Homo sapiens: one gene and its partners. The protein of the gene in region 2 interacts with the protein of the main gene of each other region in a biochemical or structural test. Each region holds a gene or a part of one and is shown on either strand. Other genes may lie near its edges.

Region 1 (7,035 bases), on a different chromosome or scaffold from region 2:
AATTAAACTAAATCCATATCATAAATAGACTAGAAGTCTTCCAAGCAATTTTACCTTTTTTAGTGCCTCATTTTTTTTTGAGGCATTACTGTTGACTTTACATATGATTTAATTTTTAGCCACCACCTCAAATTTATGATGCCCAGTTGGAAGAAAGAGAACATGCAATTGAAGAATGGAAAGGTAAAGATGGAGCTTATTTTGATCCTTCCTTTTGACATTTCTTCCAATCCTGTAGAGCAGAGGCTTTTCATTTTGTGACATTTCCCTTCAGGAAGGGGCAAGAAACCCTGCGACCCACTTAGCCTCTTTCTCCCCAGTTTCCAGTAGAAAATGAACTTGAAGAGAACAGAGTTAGAGAGGAACATTTATGAATTTCTTATCATTTGCTTCAAGAGGGAAAAATAATATTTTTTTCATGGCTTTTCACATATTGATTTATAAACTGAGCTTAGTAATTGTATCATACTTATATTGATTGATATGTTTTTAAGCCATGTAGTTGTACATATGTTTTAAAATCTAGTTTGGGGGAAATTGCAGATTGAAAATATGCAAATAGGTATTATTACCACTATAAGATTAACCAAACAACCCACAACAAACTATACCTGTAATGAAGAGGTTGAACTAACAATTTTTCATTAAGAAGCAGGATCAGTAGTAACTGAGAACCACAGTCAGAGTCAGTCAACACTGATGAGGGTCATGCCCCAGGGCCATCCTGGGGTGTGGGAGTGCCGGTTACCTGTGTGTGCCCGTGCTCAGCAGTGCATGCACACAGCGTGCTCACTGGCCTCAGTCAATGCTCACTGGCCTCAGCGAATGCTTGCAACGTGCTAATGTTGGTTTATGAATACTGACATTTTAGGAATCCCTCATCACTTACTTCGTAGGTAATTAGTTTTTCTTACAGATGAAAGTTGAGGAAAACCGAAGTTGAAATTAAGAAAAGACTTAGGCCTGTGGATTCATTTCTGGCCAGTGTGGGGGGCTCCTAGCCCACATGTGGGTGCTGGTTACCTTTGGAGAACCCCAAGTAACCACATAGAGAAACATATTCAAATGGGTGTGAGAATATCCAATCCCCTACAGTGTTCTGTGGGAGCCACTCCACTTCATAAAGCCCCCTTATGGATCCAGAACCACCCTACATGTTTTGCTGCCTTACTAGTTGCATTGAAAAAGATGTAATGTAGTCCAGGCGCAGTGGCTCACACCTGTAATCCCAGGACTTTGGGAGGCCAAGTGGGGCAGATGGCTTGAGGCCAGGAATTCAAGACAAGCCTAGCCAACATAGCGAAACCCTGTCTCTACAAAAACTACAAAAGTTAGCCAGGCATGGTGGTGAACACCTGTAATCCCAGCAATTTGGATGGCTGAGGCATGAGAATCACTTGAATCCAGGAGGTGGAGGTTTCAGTGAGTCAAGACCATGCCACTGTACTCCAGCCTGGATGACAGCATGAGACTGTCTCAAAAAAAAAAAAAAAAAAAAGAAGAAGAAGAAAAGAAAAGATATAATGTATCAAAATATGAATATTTTGGTCCAGGTAGACTATATTACTGAATTGACTCTGTCTTACAATTAAAAATAACAAATCGCAATGCCTTTGTTCCAGTTGATTTGGAAGCAGAGTTTAGAGATACAGTGAAACTGTTTAGAAACTGATTAAGCATTTTAACTTGTATTTTTATTAAAGAGCTAATTTACAAAGAAGTCATGGATTGGGAAGAAAGAAGCAAGAATGGTGTTGTAAAAGATCAGCCTTCAGGTTAGTGATTGCTTTAATTGATTGTATGATATTTTTCTTTCCCTATTCAACTTTTTTTTTTTGAGACAGAGTTTCGTTCTGTCGCCCAGGCTGGAGAGCAGCGGCGCGATCTCTGCTCACTGCAACCTCCGCCTCCTGGGTTCAAGCAATTCTCCTGCCTCAGCCTCCCGAGTAGCTGGGACTACAGGCACGCGCCACCATGCCCTGCTAATTTTTGTATTTTTAGTAGAGACGGGGTTTCACCATATTGGCCAAGCTGGTCTCGATCTCCTGACCTTGTGATCTGCCCGCCTCAGCCTCCCAAAGTGGTGGGATTACAGGCACGCACCACCATGCCTGGCTAATTTTTGTATTTTTAGTAGAGACGGGGTTTCAGCATATTGGCCAAGCTGGTCTCGATCTCCTGACCTCGTGATCCACCCGCCTCAGCCTCCCAAAGTGGTGGGGTTACAGGCGTGAGCCACCGCACCTGGCGTCTTTCCCGATTCAACTTTTATAAATGGCAGCAACATGTGAAATGCCAGCCTGGCTAGCATCAGATTTAAAAACCGCTGTATGAATAGCCAGCCTTTTTGGCTTGTCATAGTGGTGGTGGTGGTGGATGACATTTTACTGATGTGCCAGGCACTGAACTTTGTTATAAGCATTTCTCTTTCATCTTTGCAATAACTGCTGTCACCTCCATTTACAGATGAAGAAATTGAATTTAAAGCCTTTTCAATGTTGATAACCCTTTGTACTGGTCCCACCCAAAATGCCAATCTAAGTAAAATGGAGTATGGTATTCTTTTTGAGAAAATTGTTGATATCATTTTCCCATTTTTCTGCTTGATCTACTGATCTTCATAGTGGTGGAAGCCTCTAATGACCAGGTAGTTGTATGATCATGAGACTCTGATATGAGTCGTGTTCACTTACGTCTGAAGGATTCTTCCTGTTTACTAAATGAAACGCTCACGTTATATCATTGTCTCTCTCCCACTCCCACTGGGAAGCATGCACACACATGTGTGCGGATGTGCAGAGAGCACAGCTTACTTTTTATTCTTGAATTTTATGTTCAACATGACGTATGTGTCAAGCATCTAGAGATTATATAACTTCAGCAAGAACTTAGGTGCTTGTTAACTGAGCACACACGTATGACTGCAGACGTCGATCTCAGAGAGTGCATGTTGTGTTTTTATTCAAACCAGACTAAAATATGGATAGTAGGAAGTAGGATAGTTTCATTTGCTTTAAAAGATTAAAATGTCAGTTTTCTGGAGTTATAAAACCATAAAATATACAAGGCCACTAATTTTTTTCCTTTTTCTGGTATATAGTCTTTATTTATTGCAAAAGATTTCTTTGAAAGTTGATGCTTTTTTTCCTGTAGATTTAGTGTTTATGTTATAAATTGTTACAATTCAAGTGTCTGGTGACACTGGAATCCTAGTCAGGCTTAAGCTTTTGTGATACTGCATTTTCAGATAAATATAGCTGTGTCCTTTTGATGTCTGCTTGAAAGCAGCAGGTATTTTTTAAGTAGCTAACATGATTATACATGGCCACATATATGTTTAGCTACTGAGAAAAAAAGAAGAATCTTGCAAGGAAAGACATAGGAATATGGGACTCTTGGCCCAAAGAAAGACTCAAGGAAAAGTTCAGAAAGTCCAGCTGACTGACTTCTTGTCTATACTCATAGTTAGGATTGGGAAACTGCAAAAGGACAGAGCCGAGAAATGGCCTGCAGTCTCGCTGCCTGGATTTGCAGCAATGTCGTGCCTCAGATTTTATTATATTTGGTTTTCTTAGCACAGATGCAGCAGTAAGTAGCAACGCCACTCCTTCTCAGTCTTCATCGATCAATGACATTTCATCCATGTCCACTGAGCAGACGCTGGCCTCAGACACAGACAGCAGTCTTGATGCCTCGACGGGACCCCTTGAAGGCTGTCGATGATAGGTTAGAAATAGCAAACCTGTCAGCATTGAAGGAACTCTCACCTCCGTGGGCCTGAAATGCTTGGGAGTTGATGGAACCAAATAGAAAAACTCCATGTTCTGCATGTAAGAAACACAATGCCTTGCCCTACTCAGACCTGATAGGATTGCCTGCTTAGATGATAAAATGAGGCAGAATATGTCTGAAGAAAAAAATTGCAAGCCACACTTCTAGAGATTTTGTTCAAGATCATTTCAGGTGAGCAGTTAGAGTAGGTGAATTTGTTTCAAATTGTACTAGTGACAGTTTCTCATCATCTGTAACTGTTGAGATGTATGTGCATGTGACCACAAATGCTTGCTTGGACTTGCCCATCTAGCACTTTGGAAATCAGTATTTAAATGCCAAATAATCTTCCAGGTAGTGCTGCTTCTGAAGTTATCTCTTAATCCTCTTAAGTAATTTGGTGTCTGTCCAGAAAAAGTCGATTTATGTGTATTAATTGGCCATCATGATGTTATCATATCTTATTCCCTTTTATGCTATGATTTATTCTATCTTTTGTATTTCAGAAGACATATAATTAAATCTATTTAATAAATAAAAATATATAGCTTTTCTTAGATTTGTGATGTTTGGGGCTGAGAATTATCACGGCTAAAACCAAGACACTTATGTGGACATCTTGTTTTCTTTAAACTGTCTTGTCTGGGATGATTGTACATTCAGCTTTACTGCACGATACAATTTTAAGTTTTGCTTAGTGCTGCTTGAAATCCTAGCTACCTTATCTCTTTTCTTCTTGGTCTTCTAGACTTCTTATGAATTTAAAATGCTACCTAGAACTTCACCTTCTTTATTAGGTGCGTAACACTCCATCTTAATTAAATATGATGGCAGATAGGTTCCTGCATCCATGGCCTAACGTTGGAGTGGAATTTTACAAAATGCTCACTAGAGATCACTGCAGTCATTTCCTAAGTGCTTCCTTTGCCACAGACTGGCCTGGGTCCTTTATTTACCTTCCCTCATTCACTTTCCCTCGGCCAATACCACGTTCTTGATTTTCTTTCTTCACTGGAAGAAAGCAGATAAACTCCTCTTTGGTCTGTTTTCAGAGGCCAGGCTGATTCAGATGCCTGTTGCTATTGTTGCTCTCCATTGTTGGGAGGCATTCCTTTTCACAAGAATGTTCTGGGAAACTCTTCAGAGGACGTGAAGGAAATACCCTGAAGAGTCATGATTAACTATTGACTATTTTCTGATTTAAAACTGCTCACCTGAAATTGATACTTTTAGACTTTACGATCAGTAAATTATTCAGAATTCATGAAGATGCTGAGTATGTTAAGTGTCACTGCAGGAACGGAGCTGTGGTGATCACGTTTTGCCTGCCTGTGCCCATGTCTCTTCCCTTGAGCTTATTCTGTTGCTGATTCATATCTTGTGTTCAATTATTTTGGAAGCTTTTCAGTCGACATTCTGTAGAGTGTGTTCTGAGGAGGAACTGTGATAAGAAAGTTTATTATAAATATTATGTAAAATATATGGCTCTCTCTGCACCAGTTATATCTTATTGGTTGGTCATATCACTGGAAACTGGAACCTTTGATTAGCAAAATTAATATTGAAATAAGAAATAGTTCTTTTATATTGTGTCATTTGGACACTTTCAAGTACAAAATGGTAATAATAACTTGGATTGAGGCGGAAACACCTATTTTATGGCTATCTATCTAAACATCTTAAAATGGCCTTCTCTGTAATACACTTTCTTTTAAAAGACTTCACTAAATCTATCTTTAAAAGGAAAAACAAAAGGGAGAGGTTGAAAATGCGCGAGCTGCCCTGCACTGTGTGATGCTCCCTCCCCGGGAGACGTGGACGGGGGACGAGGCACCCGCAGACGCCCTTCTGCTCACTCGCTCCTCTGTGCATTCAGCGAGCCACTTGCCACAGATGGAGCCCGTGACGGTGTGGAGGGTTTCCTGGAAAGGCCATCTTCCACCAGGTAGAGGCGAGCGTGCCTAGGACAGGCCACAGGGCTCCACAGAAATACCTCACCCCAGCTTCAGGGTTCTCTCTCCTGAGCCTAGATTTGCCAGGGTCTTGGTGCCACGCAAATGGTTTCAAACTGATCTCTATGGATAAATGCTGATGTTGGTTAAAGAACTGAAAAATGTGCTCAACTGTTTCATCTTTTCTATTTTATTTTTGTAATTTATATTGTACACAACCCAGGAAGTAACTATTTTGGACATGTATTTTTATAAACCAGGTAATTTACTATTATCCTGGAATTTAGACTAGGTTTGTTTCATTTGTTGACTTAGTTTCCAGCCAAGAAGGAAACGACTGTCTCCCCCATGTCCAGGTCTCAGTTTCAAGGGCAGAGTCCAGAGAGCAGACAGAGTTCTGTGAGAGCAGGAGAGCAGTCTGGAAACCCTGGCTGTGCATACCGTGTCAGCCGTGGGCCTGGAGATGGGAGCAGGTGAGACGCAGAGCCCCAGTACTGAGAGGAGGAAGCCCTCTTACAGGGCCCCTTGCCCACCCCAAGTCCGTGTCTGAAACACGGAGCGGGTGCTGCTTCAACCCGCATTTAATGCTGTGTAAGTAGCGATAACCACGTACGAGTCTGTCTGGTTGATTTCTAATGTGACTCCTCTGGTATTTCCTCCTGGTAATAAATACAAGTGTGACCTTTCAGATTGCATATCTCAAAAGTAACATTGCTAATGTTTTATAATAAAATATATTATGTGTGTTTTGGTTGGTGAAAATAATACAGACTACATTTTAAAAGATAAATGTATAGCATGTCCAATTTTTGTGTGTTTTTACATGGCAATTAGATATTTCTCCATCACCATCTCTGATGACAGATTTAACATGAACACAGATAGATGATAAAGTGTCATGCTTTTGATCAATATTAGCAAGAGGTTTCACACTGAGAGGCAGAAACATTGCTGTTTGTTCTCTTATTGAAAATATTCTGCAAATTCCTAAATCTGTGTTTTCAAAACTAATGGCAGTAAGTTTTGACTTCACCAATATGCAGGTCCAATTCAGAGTATTGGTGTAATTGTTTTCTCATGAGGCGTGGCCAGGAGAATTCACCAGTCAGCCTTAGTCATGTTACTTAACGTCATTCATGGTGCTTGTGGCTTTGTGCCTGGGATGAGCCAAGTTCATCTGACGTCTGTGTTTGAAGCACTTCAGGCTGTTTAGTACTTAATACCACAGGAGTGGAAGGACACTCAGTGGCTCACTTTCTTTTCTCTGCTTAAAAGGACTAGAAGCATTCCAGAGAGATGAGTACCAGCTGTG
Region 2 (7,035 bases):
GTCCCCCCCCTCCCTCCTTCCCCAATAAATAGAGTGAACATCCTGCCCAGGGCCTCCCCCACCTTGTGGCATGGCGGGCTGGGGCAGGGCCTGGGGCGCTACATTCATGGCTGCCCAGGCGGGCGGTGGTGGGCAGGCCTTAGTGGGAGCCGTGGGCCCCGCACAGGGGCACTGTGCTGTCTTGGTTCTGCCCCTCCATGTCCATGTCCAGCAGTGTGGGCTGCACGCTGGGGGGCCCAGGGCTCTCCGGAGTGTCTGGCCTGCTGGGAGGCGAGATGGTGAGTGTCCGGCCGAAGGAGACCAGTTTCCAGGGGTCCAAGCGGGGGCGACTGGCAGCCGGCCGAGGTCTCGGGGCAAAGGTCAGGGTGGTGGGGCGGCCTGGGAACTCAGGGGGCCGGCGGCGGGCTGGGAACAGGGCCTGGGGGTCGGGCAGGCGGGGGAAGTCCAGAAGGTCACGAGGGCCTGGTAAGAGAGGTTCAGAGGAGGTGAGTGGGGTGGGGCAGAGGGTGGCATTAAAAAGCCCAGAGCTGTTACATGAAAAGCACAAGTTCTGGTTTCTCTCGAGAAATCCGTGGATCTTGCTGCATCCAGTTTCCATCTGTAGTGTGGCAGTGCTGGGACCTTGACCTAGACTGGGACCACTCCCAGCTGCTTGCTCCTCTGGGTGGACCCTGGCATGTTCCTCAACCTTCTGGAACTGCTGCTTAGCGGCAGCCTCGGGGGCCAAAGCCCTGGTCTTCCCGACTCTCCTGCACTGGGCTAAGCTCAGGCATGGCTTAGCTCTGAAGGGGGATAAAAATGGTGCCTCACCACGCAGGTGAGGAGCAAATAGAATAACCATAACTTAAAACAAGCAGCACAGTGCCTGACGTGGGTACTTAATAACACTGCTATGGCCGCATCTCCCACCCAGTTAACAGATGGAGGAGAACAGTGTCTAGGCTGTGTAAGAATTGGCGATGGTCATGCTGGTCACAACCGCTATAGGCACCTGCCTGGCCTTATAGGCATCAGTTTGCCGCCTGTGTCTCAGTCCCCTGGAGACCCCCGATGCCTCCAGGAGTGAGCGGTAAAGGGACACAGACCCTCCCTCCTCCACAAGAAGCAGGAGGTGGCTGCCTGAGGGGTCGTGGCTGGGCTGGACTTGCGACCCTGGCAGAGGAGGAAAGAAGGGGTTTTCTGTGACCTGGGTGCAGGGCGCCTCACTCACCAGGGCCATGGCCCGCGGGCTCGGGCGGCCCCCGCTGCCCCAGCGCCCCGTCCGATGGCGTCCGCCGGTGCCCGCGGCTCACAGCGCATGCAGCCGTGACGTGGGTGGGCGTGAGCGACTGGCGGGGGTCCTTCTTGAAGCTCTCCAGCTCCAGGTCCACCAGGGGGTTGGTGCTGGGCGAGGGCGTGGGTGTGGGCGCGGGCGGGGAGGGTGGTGGGGAGGGCGCGGCCGGTGCGGCCTCGTCACTGTCAGAGCGCAGCAGTGAACGCGTGGAGTTGCAGTCGGACACGGACGACAGCGACACGAGGGTGGCCGAGGGCGCCAGGCCCAGGCCGGGGCCCACGTCTTCGCGGCGGCCGTGGGGACGCGCGGGTGGGCTGAGGCCCCGCGGGAAGCGGCCGGCGCGGGGAAAGAAGAGGCCGTCGAGCCAGCGCCGCTGCTCCTCACCGTCGGCCGCGCGCGCCTCGGCCACGTCGGCGCCCAGGCCCACAGCCCCCAGCAGCGTGGCGCAGCCTAGCAGCGCCAGGTCGCAGCGCCGCCGGGCGCCGTGTCCCCACCGAGCGGGGGGCGCGGACGGCGTCGGCTCCCACGGCGCCCGCGCCCCCGGGGAGGGCTCGGCAGGCAGTGGCACTGAGAGGTAGGACGGGGTCGAGTAGGGGGAAGGGGGCACGCTGCTGCCTCCATCCTCTGCCTCCGCGAACTCCTCTGCAACCGGAGAGGGCCATCACTCCGCTGCAGGGCTGGCCAGGGCCCCACGGGGACTTGTGCCAAGGGACAGCCCCCGATGACCCCTCCAACAGCAAGACCAAGACCCACGAGCATCGTTCTTGAATCTGTCTCCAGGAGAAGCCTCAGAGAAGGGTGGTCCCTGCCCCTGGAAATGACCCCCCACGCCCCAGGGGCCACCATCTCCCTTCCCAGGAAGGCCTTCCACTCACTGGCCCAGTGAAACCTGGTCTCTTCGCTCAGCCCCAGGAGGCTCACCCCTTTGGCCAGGGAACCCCCACCCCCTTACAAGAACCCAGGCTCTTACCCATCTCATTGAGGCTGGCAAAGCCAGGGGCGATGGGTGTGTGTTTGGGGGACTTGCCCAGGTTGGGGGCACTTGATGACCACTGTTTGCTTCCTTCCCCCAGCCCCTTCAGCCTGCGGGGTCCAGGGAGAGATGGAGACCTCAGTCCTGTGGCCTGGAGCCTGGGAGCTGGGGCTTGGGCACAGGGTGGGCATGACCACACCACACCTCACCTCTCCTCTCCTCCCACCCGCTCCTTCTGCAGGGTGGAGCTGGGCCCCCACGTTCGTCCCTTCTTCTTGCCCCCGACCAGTTCTTCCTTCTTTGGGGGCCCACCGCGGCTCCATGTCCCACTTCCTCCACTGCTGCTGCCACTGCTGCTGCCACCACAGTCCACGGGAGTCACTGGGTCCAGAGAAGCCACTTGGTTACTGGGTGGAGGATCTGTCCCCACTGGGCTCCCAGCCTCCAGTGCCCCCAGCTCAGGCCCACCCTCCGCCTGGGAGTCCAAGGGCTCTTTTGAACTCCAGTCATGACCCTCCCTGCTATATATCTCCCCATAGCCCCCTACTGCTGTCAGGACAAGGTTCCAGCTCCTCCGCCTGGCACTGAAGGCCATGAGCGGTTCCCTGCCAACTCCTCCAGCCTCCCCTCCTCTTCACAGCCTAACCCTTCACCATTCATTCTGGCGGGCTGCCTGCGCTTCTGGTCTCCAGCTCTGGGTAGTTAGTTCCCTGGGGGTCAGCTGCCTTCATCTCTGTACCTGCAATGCTCTGGACCTATCTGGTGCCAGTGTTTGCTGCCATGGTATGGGTATTTGTCTCTGTGTCCCCTGCAGGACTGACCTCCTGGGCCTGGTACAAAGCAGGTGCCCAGACAGAGGGCAGGGGGGCTGTGGGTGGGGACAGTGCTGGGGTGAATGAGGTGTTGGAACTTGGGAGCTAGCCTTTCACCCTTCAACCCACCAGGAAACTCCGATGACCGTGTCTCTGCCATATAGCCCCGACTGTGGACATCTGTCCCTTCCAAGTCCCCCACCCTGGCCTGGCCTCCATCATCTCACTGCTTTCTCCACCTTTATTTCTTACAGCAGCCAGAGGGAAAAAGGTCAATTTGATTCCCTCAGTGCCTTGCTCGCATGGCTCTGGGGGCTGCCCCAGGGCAGTTAAAAGAAAATCCATACCAGGCCAGGTGCGGTGGCTCTTGCCTGGAATCCCAGCACTTTGGGAGGCCCAGGCAGAAGAATCACTTGAGGTCAGGAGTTGGAGACCAGCCTGGCCAACATGGTGAAAACCCCATCTCTACTAAAAATACAAAAATTAGCCAGGCATGGTGGTGCAGGCCTGTAGTCCCAGCTACTTGGGAGGCTGAGGCAGGAGAATCGCTTGAACCTGGGAGGCAGAGGTTGCAGTGAGTTGAGATCGCACCATTGCACTCCAGCCTGGGAGACAGAGCGAGCGTCTGTCTCACCATGGAATACTATGCAGCCATAAAAAGGAACGAGATCATGTCCTTTGCAGGGACATGGATGGAGCTGGAAGCCATTATCCTCAGCAAAATAATGCAGGAACAGAAAGCCAAACACTGCATGTTCTCACTTATAAGTGAGAGCTGAGCAAATAGATCACATGGACACAGGGAGGGGAACAACGGACACTGGGGCCTGTTGGGGGGTAGGGTGGGGGAGGGAGAATATTAGGAAAAATAGCTAATGCATGGGCTTACTACCTAGGTGATGGGTTGACAGGTGCAGCAAATCACCATGGCACACGTTTACCTATGTAACAAACCTGCACATCCTGCACACGTACCCCAGAACTAAAAACAAAAATTAAAAACAAAAAAATCCATACCAAAGGTGTCAAATGAAAATTAAAAAAAAAAAAAAAAAAGAAAGGAAAATCCAGACTCTTATCCTGCTCTCAGGGCCCTGCCTGATCTGACCCCTGAGAACTCCCTGATCACAAAACCTATGTCCTCCTCCCATTCACTCTGCTCCAGCCAAACAGGTTAACAAGCAGCCCATGCTGTTCTCACCTCCAGCTTTTGCCTTTGCTGCTCCCTCCGCCAGGGGCATGCTTCCCTGAGGTCTCAGCCTGTCTCACTCAGCAGGAAGGTCCCTGCTCAAACCTCACCTCCTCCCATAGGGCTTCCAGATGGAAAATCGCAACCCTTCTGTGATGGGTAATTTTATGCGTCAACTTGACTGGGCCAAAGGACGCCTAGGTAGCTGGTTAAACATGATTTCTGTGAGGGTGTTGCTGGATGATTAGCATTTCAATCAGTGGACTGAGTAAAGAGAGATCATCCTCGCCAATGTGGGTGGGCACCATCCAATCCACTGAGGGCCCAGACAGAACAAAAAGAGAGTTAGCTCTTTTTGTCTAGGAAGGCAGAGGAAGGGTGAGTTTGCTCTCTGCATGAGCGTGGATATCCATCTTCTCCTGCCCTGAGACACTGGACATTGGTGTTCAGGTTCTCAGGTCTTTGGACAATTTTTTTTTTTTTTGAGACTGAGTCTCACTCTGTCGCCCAGGCTGGAGTGCAGTGGCACGATCTCGGCTCACTGCAACCTCCGCCTCTCAGGTTCAAGTGATTCTCCTGCCTCAGTCTCCCGAGTAGCTGGGATTACAGGCATGCGCCACCACGCCTAGCTAATTTTTGCATTTTTAGTAGAGACTGGGTTTCACCATGTTGGCCAGGCTGGTCTTGAACTCTTGACCTCAGGTGATCCACCTGCCTCGGTCTCCCAAAGTGTTGGGATTACAGGCGTGAGCCGCCGTGCTGGGCCAGGTCTTTGGACTTGATTTGGAACTACATCACCGGCTTTCCCGCACCTCTGGCTTGCAGAAGGCAGATTGCAGGACTTCCCAGCCTCCATAATCGTATGTGCCAATCCCTCATAATACATCTATTTCTTTTGTTTTTGTTTTTGTTTTTTTTGAGACGGAGTCTCGCTCTTTCGCCCAGGCCGGAGTGCAGTGACGCTATCTCGGCTCACTGCATGCTCCGCCTCCCGGGCTCATGCCATTTTCCTGCCTCAGCCTCCCGAGTAGCTGGGACTACAGGTGCCTGTCACAGCACCTGGCTGACTTTTTGTATTTTTAGTAGAGACGGGGTTTCACCGTATTAGCCAGGATGGTCTCGATCTCCTGACCTCGTGATCCGCCTGCCTCGGCCTCCCAAAGTGCTGGAATTACAGGCGTGAGCCACCGCGCCTGGCCTTTGTTTTTGTTTTTAAGTAGAGATGGGGTCTCGCTTTGTTGCCCAGGCTGGTGTCGAACTCCTAGGCTCAAGCAATCCTCCCACTTCATCCTCCCAAAGTGCTGGGATTACAGGTATGAGTCATCGTGCCCAGCCAATACATCTCTTTCTATATATCTAAACATATGCTGTTGATTCTGTTTCTCTGAAGAACTCCGATTAATACATCTCCTCTTTTATTCCCTTCCCTGAGCTCCTTTAAAGAACTTATCACTACTAGAAATTATCCTGCGCCCGGGCGCGGTGGCTCATGCTGTAATCCCAGCACTTTGTGAGGCTGAGGTGGGTGGATCACTTGAGGTCAGGAGTTCGATACCAGCCTGGCCAACATGGTGAAACCCCCATCTCTATTAAAAATACAAAAAATTAGGCAGGCGTGGTCATGTGTGACTGTAACCACAGCTACTCGGGAGGCTGAGGCAGGAGAATCGCTGGAACCCAGGAGGCGGAGGTTGCAGTGAGCTAAGATTGCACCACTGCACTCCAGCCTGGGAGATAGAGCGAGACTCTGTCTGTCTCCAAAAAAAAAGAAAAAAAAAAAAAAGAAATTATCCTGCTTACTGACTTATTTGTTTACTATCTGTTTCCTGTGATAAGAATGAGGAAAAGGGCCTTGTCTGTCTTCTTTCTTGCTGTTACTCTGGCTTGGTGCCAGGTATAAACATCGTGCTAAAAAATGTTTGTTCACTGACTGACTGACTGGTCAGGGCCTTGGGAGATACTCACGGCGAATGGCCCTCAGCCGGGGGATGATGCTGGGGCTTGCAGGGGGGCTGGCCCCATCGGATCCTTTCCGCTTATCCAGAGTTGGAGAGGCCTGGACTGTGATCTTATGCTCAAAGCCTGCAGAAAGAAAGAGAAGCTTTCCTAAGCAAATGGTTCCAGGGATTACCAAAGGGAATTTTCTTCTGTAGAAGTAGAGAAGGAATTCTAGAATGGGAACACCGCCATTTTTCATTCCTTAATGCAGTGGTTCTCAGAGTGTGGGCCCCAGAACAGCAGCATCACCATCAGCTGAAAATTTCTTGGCAATGCAAATTCTTGGGCCCTCCCTGAATCAGCAAGTTGGGGTGAGGCTCAGCAATGGACTGTGGTTTAATAAGTACAAGCACAAGAGCTCTTGTGGATCAAGGACCTAGGCCTCAGTGTCCAATATGGCCGCCAGTAGCTACGTGTAGCAGCTGAGCACCTTGAAATGTGGCTTGTGCAATGGGGGAATTGGAGTTTAACCTTTATTTATCTAATTTTTAAACTGTATATATATATATATATAAAGGATGAGTTCTCACTGTGGTGACCAGGCTGGTCTTGAACTCTTGGCCTCGAGCAATCCTCCAGCATCCGCCTCCCAAAGTGCTGGGATTACAGGTGTGAGCCACCATGCCCAGCCAACTCTTTATTTTATTGTAATTACCGCAATTTGAGTTTAAATTTTAAAAACAGGTATGGGGGCTGGGCGCGGTGGCTCATGTCTGTAATCCCAGCACTTTGGGAGGCCGAGGCAGGCGGATCACGAGGTCAGGAGATTGAGACCATCCTGGCTAACACG
Region 3 (7,035 bases), on a different chromosome or scaffold from region 2:
TGCACATATATATATATATATATATATATATATTTTTTTTTTTTTTTGAGACGGCCTTTCGCTCTGTCACCCAGGCTGGAGAGCAATGACATGATCTTGGCTCACCGCAGCCTCTGCCACCTGGGTTCAAGTGATTCTCCTGCCTCAGCCTCTTGAGTAGCTGGGATTGCAGGTGTGCATCACCATACCTGGTTAATTTTTGTATTTTTAGTAGAGACAGGGTTTCACCATGTTGGCCAGGCTAGTCTTGAACTCCTGACCTCAGGTGATCTGCTCGCCTCGGCTTCTCAAAGTGCTGGGATTGCAGGCGTGAGCCATGGTGCCCAGCCCCCCTGCACACATCTGTGTCTCCTCACACATGGCTCCGCTTCCTCACTGCCAAGCCCTAGTCCAGCTCCTGCCTCTGCCCTCCCAGATGTCCCCACTGGCCTGTCTGTCTCAGTCTCCCTATGCCTGCACCATCCCACTCCACCTGCCACTATCAGGCAAAACTGCCAGAAATGCCATCATCCCTCCCGCCCCACTTGGAACCCTCAAGGCTCTCCACTAGCAGCAGGTTCCTGTGCCTGCAGGCAAGGCCTCCAGCTCCATGCGTAGTCTGCGTGGGCACTGTGTCTCCCCAGTGCCAAACCCAGTGCTCAGAGGGAGCACGTGGCAGACTCTCAAACCATGCTTGCTGGAAGAGTGCTCAGTTAAGCTCATTCTTCCAGGAAGCCCTCCCAGCCCTTGCATGTGGCTGATGTCACCATCTGCCTGGATGTACAGTAGTGTGTGCAGCAGACAGGGCCAGCCCTCCCTCAGAAACACCCACTTCCCACCCCCTGGCTGCTCCAAAGGTGGATGGGGCCTGTATCCAGCACCCTGATTGATGACCCTATACTGTACCCAGCAGGTGATCAAGACCCCTTCCTCCCCTTGCTCCTGGAGGGCAGAGCTGGCGAGTTCATCCTGCATACACTGAGTCCTCAGCATGAGCCTGCTAGATGTCTGTCACAGGACAGCCTCTGCCTCCACCTGCTCCTCTCGAACTGCAGGCTGGAGCAGGGCCTGCAGGGTCTGGCTTAGACCTGGGTTAGAGGCTTCTCAGTTCACTTCTACACCCTCAACATCACCTGATATTCCCACTTCCTTGGACAATAGGTCTGGGTGGGGCAAGGACAGCAGCATTCTTCCTGTACAGCTGAGGGCACTGGGCTTTAATTGGGCAATGCTAGAAAGAATACTGGGCTGGGGGTCAGAGAGCCTATGCCTGATCCCTGGCTCTACTGGGGTGGGTTAAGGGGGATGCTTTGTCTGACTTTTTAGGTGCCTCTCATAAGTAAGGCAGGATGGAAGAATGATCACCATATCAGGCTTGGAAGCAGGAGGCCTGAAATAAATCCTGACTCTTTCACGTTGAAGCTGCCCCATCTTGGCCCCAACATTTATGCCATGCATCTCTCTTAATCCTCATTGCAACAACCTTGGGAGAGGGTTTGTTCCATTTTTCCCATTTTACAGATGAGGAACACTAAGGCTTAGACATAAAGGTGCCTTATGCTTCAGCTTCCCAGATACAGGATGAAGCCACCAATCCCTGCCCACCCACCTCAGAGGGCTGGTGAGGGTTAGCAGAATGGAATTTGTGTGAGTAGGAGGTCACTACCAAGGATCAAGGGGGACTGATTGGTCAAAGAGTACCCTGTGCAAGTCACCCCCCATCCAAGACTCTGCCCTTTCCTCTTTTCCAGGCACCAGATGTTCTGGCCTCCCAGCTAAAACCCTGGGGGGTCCCTTTATGGAGAGAAGGCTAAACAGACACTTGGTCCCTGAAGGCTCATGGAAGGTCAATGTGGGGAAGGGAGGGAAAGGAGGAGGGAGGAAAAGATGGAGGGGAGAAGGGAGGGGAAGAAGGGGAAAAGAGGGCGGTTCCCTCCTGTCCCGCCTGATCCACCCTGCTCATGGCAGCCTTAGCACCAGGAGGCCTCCAAACTGAATCCTACGGCCCTCCGCAGGCCGGCCTCCCTCACCTCTGGGTCTGGAAGTTTCAGCAGTCTCCTGTAGAAGCAGCCCCTGCCCACCCATCAGACCTGCTTGTCTATCCTGGATGCTGTGATCCTTGAGACGTCATCCATATTAACGTTTGGTGGCTCTGAGCTGTGAGTTTGGTCTCTGGAGACCGCCCTGACCTTTCTACCTGAGGCCCTGTTCCTGCATTCACCTGATCCCTCCTACTCTGCTGCCCCAGTCCTTGCTTTTGCCCTGCCAGCTCCTCACTGTTCTCGCCATACCAGCTCCTGCTCCCACCCCACCCTGAGCTGCACTTTTCTAAATGGCCCTGAACAAACATGCCTTTTGTGTTCTGATGTTGATTTCAGGCCCTTTTCCCCTGCCTTGCTGGGTCACATTTCCACCAACCACAGTCCTGCCCTTTCTAACGGACTATTTCAGCTCCGTAGTAGGCTGAGTTAGAAGTGTATGTAAAGCAAAGGTTAAGTGGTAAAGTGCTGAGGCTTTAGCTGAGCAAGGCCAAATCTGAGCCAGGCATTGGCTGTTCAGATGTCATTCTTGGGCCTTTGTGTTCCTGGCTGTGCTGTGGTGAGGAGGTAAGGATGCCAGCTGATTGACCTTGGGTCCTGGCCACAATGCCCCACAAGCCTCTCTTGTGACAGAGGGCACGTGTGGTCCAGGGATCCAGCCTGCCTCTTTGCAGCCCTCTAAGTGCTGAGAACGAAGCTGGCTCCCAGTGAGTTCTCAGGACACCTGTTGACTGGCCGCTCAACCCTAAGTGGGTTCCCCATTTCCCTCTGGTTCCTCTACCAGCCACTCTCCACCAGGTAATGACAGCAAAGCTGACCTCTGAATTACAAATCTGGTCTGGTCACTCTTCCCAGCTCAAAGCCCTTTAATAGCTTCCCCTGGTCCTTAGGAGAAGGGGCCCAAATTCTCATCTGTGGCCTGAAGGCTCTGTAAAGCCTCCTTTCCCTCCAACCAGTATCATTTCCCTTCATTCCCCCCACCTCCCACCTTTATCTCCTCCTTCAATAGCGCAGCTCCCAAAGCAGTAGCATGGTCTCCTCTGCAAGCCTTCTCTGACCTCTGGGACCAAGCCAAACCGCCCTGCTATGGGCTCTCGGAGTCCCTCCTGGCTGTGGTTCCGTATCACTGTAATTTTACCTTTGGGTTATGCGGCCCGCGGTGGCCTCCCCTTGGAGTCAGTTAATCCATATGGGTGGGATCATATCTGTTTTGATCAACATGTGTGGTGCCTAATAGGTACTTGACAAATGCTGAATGAATTAACCACAGGTGTCCCAGGGCTCTCTGGATTTTTGCCTTGGAAATCTCTAAGTTAGTCCACTTTTCCAATCAACTTCCTGTGTCCCCACCTACACCAGAGTCTGGGCTAGGATGTCAGGTCCTCTGGGAAGACGGTGCTGGCTGAAACGGTGGGGTGGGGATGAGCCAGACCCAGCATCCCTCTCAGGCCCTCGCTCTACCCCCACCACCTGGCTCTGGGTGAACATGGGGTTGGGCTGGGTTTGTTCTTTGGGTCAGAATTCCCTTCCTGACCACCTCCATACGGAGGTCATCTCCAACGAAAACTGAATCCAACCAAAGAAATGAGCCCCGAGGGACAACCCCACTTGCGGTTATAACATGTTTGATCTGTTTAAACATCTTCATGCTGATACATTGCAAGAACTCTGGGATCCAGTTGTTCGACTTTTGGGAAACTGCTTCGAGGAAACAATCCCACATTGTTTGGAGAAGAACTGTTACACACAGGATGTTCATTCCTCATCACAGCAAACAACTGAAAACACCTGCGTCACCCAGCACCAGGGGGCTGGTTCCATCGTGGCCATCAGCAGATGAAATGTGATGCAGTCTTTTGGAATCAACATTATAAAGTCTGTGTATTAAGGTGACAACTAATAAAATGAGCAAAAAGACAGCATATATGATCCAGTGGTCTCCCCAGGATGATATTGCACACAGGAAGAAACACTCACATGGACACAGAGTTGTGAGATGGGGTAGAATCTGGGGCGCTCTTTTCTCCTTTGCTGTCCTTCACAGACTTTCATCTTGGGTCATGCCAGCCTAGCATGGGCTCCCCGTCTGCTGCTGGGCTGCCTGCCCTCCCCAGAGCTGCAAGTTTCCTGAGGGCAGGGTCATCATACTCACCTGGGCACTGACTCCCCACCTTTGCTCCAATCTATGCACAAAGCCCAAAACCCTGCACACCATAGGTGCTAAATCAGTGCCTATTAAAGAGGCACTGCAAGCAACATGACAGCAGGAGCCATGAGCTCTCCACTGGCATCTCCAGTGGCGGAACAAGGCAAAGCACCCAGAGACGCTCCTGCTATTTTGGAATGAATACAAGAGTGGGGCCAGGGAACAAAGATGGCATCATAGAATGATTAAGAACTACGTGTGGATGGTGGCTGTGACCCAATTTGTGGGAACCATGGGGGCCCCAAGCTAGAAGTGTGTTGTGGCCCATTTCCAGCAATCCAGAGACGAACTTTAAAGCTCTGCCATCAGCGAGCTGGGGTTGAAATTCTGCCCTGGCCACTGCCGGACTGTGTGAGGCAAGTCAACACTCTCTGCCTCCACATCCAAGGTCCATCAGGAGCCAGGCCAAGGCGGTCCTGGGCATGAGGCAGCTCCAGCAGCACCTCCCCACCTCCACCGAAACATGGTTGGCTGAACAGGCCACCGGCCAGCCATCTTCCTGCCCTCTGCTCAGTCTCCCTGGACAGTGATGTCCTCTCTGAGGCTTCAGTGGCCATCCCTCCAAACTCAGACTCCCAGGGTCTTTGGCCCCAGCCCTATCCTCTCCTCTGAGCTCCAGACCCAAAACCGACTGACTGTATGATTCCTCCAATTGGGTCCTCCAATGATCCCCAGTCTCAAATTCAGCAGGTTCCCACATGATTTTCACACCCTGCCCACCGCCCTCTGGTCTCCCACTGGACACCCCACCCACCAAGGAGCCCCAGCATCATCCTAGACTCCTGCCTCCCCACTCCCTATTCTGTATCCCTCACCAAGCAGGCTAATCTGCCCCCTAACTCTTCCTCACACCCTGAACCTGTCCCTCCTTCTTACCAGCAGGATGGCTAGTCCCCTGGCCGCTCTCTACCCAGCAGCCAGGTGATCCTCCTAGAACAAGCTTGTCTAACCCATGGCCCATGGGTGCGTGAGCCCCAGGATGGCTCTGAATGTGGCCCAACACAAATTCATAAACTTTTTTGAAACATTATGAGATGTTTTTGTGTTTTAGCTCATCAGCTATCGTTAGTGTTAGTGTATTTTACGTGTGGCCCAAGATAATTTTTCTTCCATGTGGCCCAGGGAAGCCAAAAGATTGGACACCCCTGTCCTAGAGGATCTGTCTGACCCTGTCATTCCTTTCCTAACCCCCTGCCAGCTCCTCTGGCTGTTGGTGAAGAGGTCGGCATCGTCACATGGCCTACAAGTTCCTGCACATCCTGCTCTCCACCCTCCTGCCAGACTGGGCACCAGACACCCTGCCCACCCGCTCTGGTCTCCGCCCTTCACTCCAGTGACACCCTTGGGTGATATTTTTATGCGTCCACCAGGCCTAAGCTGAAATGTCCCTGCCTCTGGGGGGCCTGTCTAGACCCGCTGAGCCTGGGTCCCTTGACCTGAGCCATCATCACACCGACCAGCCCATCTGTAAAGCCGTCTGTCTGTCTGTCTCCCCTCTACAACACCAATAGCATGATGGCCAGGCCCACGTCTGGGCCTTTGCAGTGTTTCCCTGGTGACCTAGGCAAAGTGCAAACGTTTGTTGAGTGAATGAAGGAAGAAGCCTCTCGGTGGCCCCATCTCTCATCCCTGAGGCAGGGTGCTGGGGCAGATGGCAACCATCCAGGCAGCCATGGCCTGGCTCTATCCCAGCTTTGCCACTAATTTGCTGTGTGCTCTTGGGGGAGCCACTCGCCCTCTCTTGTTTCCTCATAAGGGGAGGGAGCTGGTTGGACGAGCTGGTCTCTAAGGTCTCTCAGATCCACGATTCCCCTTCTACACACCCCAGACAGGCCGCTCGCTCCCTTCTTGTCCATGAAACCCCCTTTGTCTCTGCTGTTCCTCCCACGTGAACTGTCCTTCTGCCCCTCCTCTTTGTCCCACCTACCCAGTGCCAATGTCTCCACTGTGTAAATTTCTAAATTCTCTTTTCTAGAGTTTTCTTTATAATGAACATGTATCACTTTAATTTTGAATTTTCTTTTATTATTTTGTAAGACACAGAAGTAACCTATACTCATTATAAAATAAGAAGTCAAATACAGGTGAGCAGCCCTAATCCAAAAACCTGAAATCTGAAATGCTCCAAAATCCTAAATGTTTGAGCACCAACATAACAGCACAGGCTGTAAATTCCACACCTGACTCCACATGACAGGTTGTAATCAAAACTTTGTTTCATGCACACAATTATTTAAATTATTGTATAAAATTACCTTGAGGCTATATGTATAAGATATATAAGAAAAAATCAATTTCATTTTTAGACTTGGGTTCCCATCCCCAAGCTATTTCGTTATGCATATGCAAATATTCCAAAATCCAAAAAAATTAGAAATCTGAAACACTTCTGGTCCAAAGCATGTCAGATCAGGCATACTCAACCTGTAATATAAAAGTATGACACTGGGCGTGGTGGCTCGAGCCTGTAATTCCAGCACTTTGGGAGGCTGAGATGGGTGGATCACCTGAGGTCAGGAGTTCAAGACCAGCCTGGCCAACATGTTGAAACCCCGTCTCTACTAAAAATACAAAAATTAGCCGGGCGTGGTGGTGGGCACCTGTAATCCCAGCTACTTGGGAAGCTGAGGCAGGAGAACCGCTTGAACCCAGAATACAGAGGTTGCAGTGAGCTTAGATCATGCCACTGCACTCCAACCTCCAGCCTGGGCGACAGAGTGAGACTCTGTCTCAAAAAAAAAAAGTATGTAAAATAAGAAGTAAAAATCCCTCACCCCATACCATACCCAAAGGTAACCAACCACTATAAAC
Region 4 (3,721 bases), on a different chromosome or scaffold from region 2:
CTCTCTCTCTCTCTCTCTTTCTCTCTCTCTCTCTCTCTTCTTTTCTTTCATTGTGGTTACAGGGTCTTGCTCTTTCCAGCCAGAGTGTGGTGGCATGATCATGGCTCACTGCAGCCTCAACCTCCTAGGCTCAAGCTATCCTCCTCCCTTACCCACCCAAGTAACTGGGACTACAGGTGTGTGCCACCACACCTAGATAATTTTTGTATTTTTTTTTTTTTTTTTTTGTAGAGATAGAGGTTTCGCTTTGTTGCTCAGGCTGGTCTCGAACTCCCAGACTCAAGGGATCTGCCCACCTTGGCCTCCCAAATTGCTAAGATTACACAGTAGCATGAGCTGCTGTGCCCAGAAATTTATTTCCACTTAATAGCATAACAGAAATTTTCTGTGTAATTACAAACATTGGAACTTTTTTTCACATCTACCCAATATTTCAATTAGGTAAATATACCTTAATCAATTAACCCTATTGGTCAATATTCAGATTACTTTTATGCTTACATTATTTCAAAGAAGAATGCAATAAACACTTTTCTGTAGAACGCGTTTTATTTAGAACGCCATCCTTGGGCTAGATTGGCGGAAGTTGGAGGCGTCATGCAGCGCCTCCTGCCTGGGAGCCAGGCGATCCGCCAGGTTCTGGGAGGACCTAAGGTCAACAGCCACGCCTGCTCTCTGGGCTCACAGTCAGCAGCCGCTACCAGGAGAGCAAGTCCTCAGAAGGCCCGAGACCAGGGCCCGGGAGCGCCCACAAGGACGGGAGGTCACCCAGTGACAAACAGGGAAGGGCAGCAGGTGCGCCCAGGAACCCAGAGGCTCCCAGAGCAGAAGTGGGATGCAGGGGTGGGGGCGGGTCATGCTGAGGTTCAACAGGGACCTGCTTCCTGGTTCAACAGGGAGCTGGCCAGAGAGAGGGATCTGCTGAGGCTTCTGTTTAAAAACCCTGGCCTGGGTGTGGGTGCAAGTGGATTTGCAGGTGCAGTGAGGCAGCGGCCGGAGCAGGCTGTTGCACGAAGACCCAGGAAAGTCAGGGTGGTTTGATCCAGGCAGAAGAGGGGGAAATGGAGCCTGGGGCAGACGTAAAGGTGCTGGGGTGAGGATAAGGGTGACAGGAGGGAGGAGTCTGGGGTGACCAAGGCCTGCAGCTCAGGTGACTGGGAAAAAACATAAAACAGAACACAGATGAATGCAGGGGTCGGGACGAAGGCTCCTGTGAGTCTGAAGTGACTGTGAGTGGCACCCTCTGGCCAGCCACAGTGGCTCTCACAGCTCATTCTGCAGAGCACCGGCCCAGTGATGAGCCGAGGAAGTGCCCCTGGAGGTCAGCTGGATCTGCCCAGTGGTCTGCACAGGGGGCGGCTGCCAGGGGCCTGAGCACAGGGAAACCCTCGAAACTGTGGGAGGGATGAAGCCAGAGAGGTAGACCCCAGAACCGACCAAGCCCAGCATGGGGCGTGGAGGGCGGCCAAGCTCAAGAAGACCATGAGATTGGAGAAGGAGCTGCAGAGAGGTGGAAGGCAGACAGGCGAAGGACTCACGAGCACGTCCAACAGCCGTCCTAAGGGCCGGCTGGAGGGAAAGAGACCTGAAGACACGTTGGGGGGCGGGGCCGGGCAGGGGCGGGGCCAGGCCGGGCAGGGGCGGGACGGGGGCGCCGGAGGGCAGGGCTTGGAGAATTCTCACCTGAGTGGAAGAGCAGAGGGAGGAGGTGGGTGGGTGGCAGCGGTTTCCAGGCAGCAGCTACAGGGGACTGAGGGCCACACCCCGAATGCCCTAGCCCAGGGGGCACAAGTTTCAAACGTACACACCCAGTGGGGCTATCTGCCTCTTTACAGCTTTATCTCAATTAGTAGGAAAGTTTTCTCATAAACGTTCTGCGTTTCCGTCGTGCCACTGGTCTGCGTCCTCGGTCTCTCTGGGGCCTCAGGTCTGTGCGCTGCACACGGGCTGAACCTCTGGATCATGATGCACTTCCTAACACTGGGCAGCTATTTCTCTGCTTGTTGGCTCTGTGAAGACGTGTTTTTTACGGACAGCACTTTCTAATGTTTATGTAGTAAGTTTGTGTATACTTCCCTTAGCTCACTAAGGAACCTTCAACTGTTGTCTTCCTGGTGTTGCACGAATCCTGGGCTCAGACAGAGGGACCCCGGCCATGCTGACCCCTGCCTGGGAGGCGGGCTCACCCAGGAGGGCCTGGGAGGGAACATTGCCGGGCATCTGCAGTCACCTAAGCACATAGTGAAAAAGTCACCTATTTTCTTCTGGCTTTCTCTGGAGAATTTTTTAAATATCCATTTTAAGATCTAAGTAGATTGTTTTTCTTTTCCTTTTTCTGAGACGGAGTCTCCCTCTGTCGCCCAGGCTGGAGTGCAGTGGTGCAATCTTGGCTCACTGCAACCTCCGCCTCCCAGGTTCAAGCGATTCTCATGCCTTAGCCTCCTGAGTAGCTGGGATTACAGGTGTGCGCCAGGACACCTAGCTAATTTTTGTATTTTTTGTGGAGATGGGGTTTCACCATGTTGGCCAAGCTGGTCTCAAACTCCTGACCTCAGGTGATACGCCCCGGCTCGGCCTCCCAAAGTGTTGGGATTACAAGCGTGAGCCACCGTGCCCGGCCAGATTGTTCTTCAAGGAGTTCATGCCCCCACTACACACTGACCTGAGCCGTGCTGGCCCCCAGTCCGTGCACGTGGAAAGGACACCCCATTGCACAGCCTCGGATTCCTCTGTGGCCAATCGAGTGTATCTAGGGAGAATTCCCAAGGGTGCTTCTAGATACGGCACCTCAGATAAGGCCCCAGAGCAGCACCGCAGGGACCCCCGGCACAATTTCGGAAAGAGCTAAAAGGGTGAGATTGCCACAACACTCCCGCCACTGGGGACTCTGTCCCTACCACAATGGGCAGCCCCTGGGCACCTGGCCCCATGTCTTAGCACCCTCTAGAAACAGCCAATGTCACACCAAGCAGAGAGTTTATTGAGGCCATGGGCAGGGCCCAGGAACACAGCACGGGGCGTGCGTGGGGTGGATGCACGCTGGACTGCAGGGGTGCGCTAGCAGCGGCAAGCGGAGGGGTATTGGGGGCCCAGGAGGGCCCCCCCTCCTAGCAGCGTCTAGGGGCTTCAGGTGAGCATCAAGAACCACTCCTAGCCTCCGCAGGGCTCTTTTGGGAACCCCTCCCTGCTTCCCCCTGAGCTCCATGTGGGGTGGGGCTGGGGCGAGGGGGCCCCTCTTGTCCCTGTGGTCAAGGATGGGATGATCCCTTGAGATTCACTATAAAAATTAAAATTCCCTTATAAATCGCAGGGGAGTGGCAGGAGGGCATCACTTGGAAGCCGACATTACCTGTCCCTAGAGCCGCACCTCCTCCACACCCCCGAAGTTCTGACCCCAAAGTGAAGAATAGAGGATAAGGTTTGCAGGCACAGAGAGGGGCAGAGACACCAGGAGAGAGAAAAGGGAGACTGGGAAGGGAAGGAGGAGGACAACACAGAGAAAGAACGGATCTGAGGAAAAGCAGGGGCACGGGGGCTCCACTCCCCCGCAGCCCCAACAGCTGCGCCCTGGGGACCGAGGACGAGAGTTCCCAGCCCGCAGACCCCCACAAGCGTAAGGTCCCATGTCCCCCCAATCCAGTCCTTGCCAAAGCCATGGTGGCCTCTTGAGACATCCTCAGCCCCAGCTGCGCCTGGAGCAGACGGCCAGGAGACAGAGCGG

The links.
Region 1: of the proteins of MAP3K10 (region 2) and MAPK9, one has a biochemical effect on the other in vitro, tested with the Homo sapiens proteins (one study listed by BioGRID).
Region 3: the proteins of MAP3K10 (region 2) and MAPK8IP1 form a complex in vitro, tested with the Homo sapiens proteins (one study listed by BioGRID).
Region 4: the proteins of MAP3K10 (region 2) and MAPK8IP2 form a complex in vitro, tested with the Homo sapiens proteins (one study listed by BioGRID).

The regions. Positions count from the first base shown.
Region 1 is NC_000005.10:180,233,072-180,240,106, reverse strand, and holds the end of MAPK9 (mitogen-activated protein kinase 9), read left to right. Parts: intron 1-119; coding exon 120-183; intron 184-1,703; coding exon 1,704-1,775; intron 1,776-3,575; coding exon of another isoform or gene 3,576-3,580; coding exon 3,581-3,723; 3' UTR 3,724-6,964; downstream 6,965-7,035. UniProt on the Homo sapiens protein: Serine/threonine-protein kinase involved in various processes such as cell proliferation, differentiation, migration, transformation and programmed cell death.
Region 2 is NC_000019.10:40,208,397-40,215,431, reverse strand, and holds part of MAP3K10 (mitogen-activated protein kinase kinase kinase 10), read right to left. Parts: intron 6,330-7,035; coding exon 6,213-6,329; intron 2,628-6,212; coding exon 2,456-2,627; intron 2,357-2,455; coding exon 2,244-2,356; intron 2,044-2,243; coding exon of another isoform or gene 1,916-2,043; coding exon 1,211-1,915; intron 783-1,210; coding exon of another isoform or gene 766-782; exon of another isoform or gene 531-765; intron 463-530; coding exon 140-462; 3' UTR 1-139. UniProt on the Homo sapiens protein: Activates the JUN N-terminal pathway.
Region 3 is NC_000011.10:45,888,632-45,895,666, reverse strand, and holds part of MAPK8IP1 (C-Jun-amino-terminal kinase-interacting protein 1), read right to left. Parts: intron 1-7,035. UniProt on the Homo sapiens protein: The JNK-interacting protein (JIP) group of scaffold proteins selectively mediates JNK signaling by aggregating specific components of the MAPK cascade to form a functional JNK signaling module. Required for JNK activation in response to excitotoxic stress.
Region 4 is NC_000022.11:50,610,788-50,614,508, reverse strand, and holds the end of MAPK8IP2 (C-Jun-amino-terminal kinase-interacting protein 2), read right to left. Parts: 3' UTR 531-3,721; downstream 1-530. UniProt on the Homo sapiens protein: The JNK-interacting protein (JIP) group of scaffold proteins selectively mediates JNK signaling by aggregating specific components of the MAPK cascade to form a functional JNK signaling module.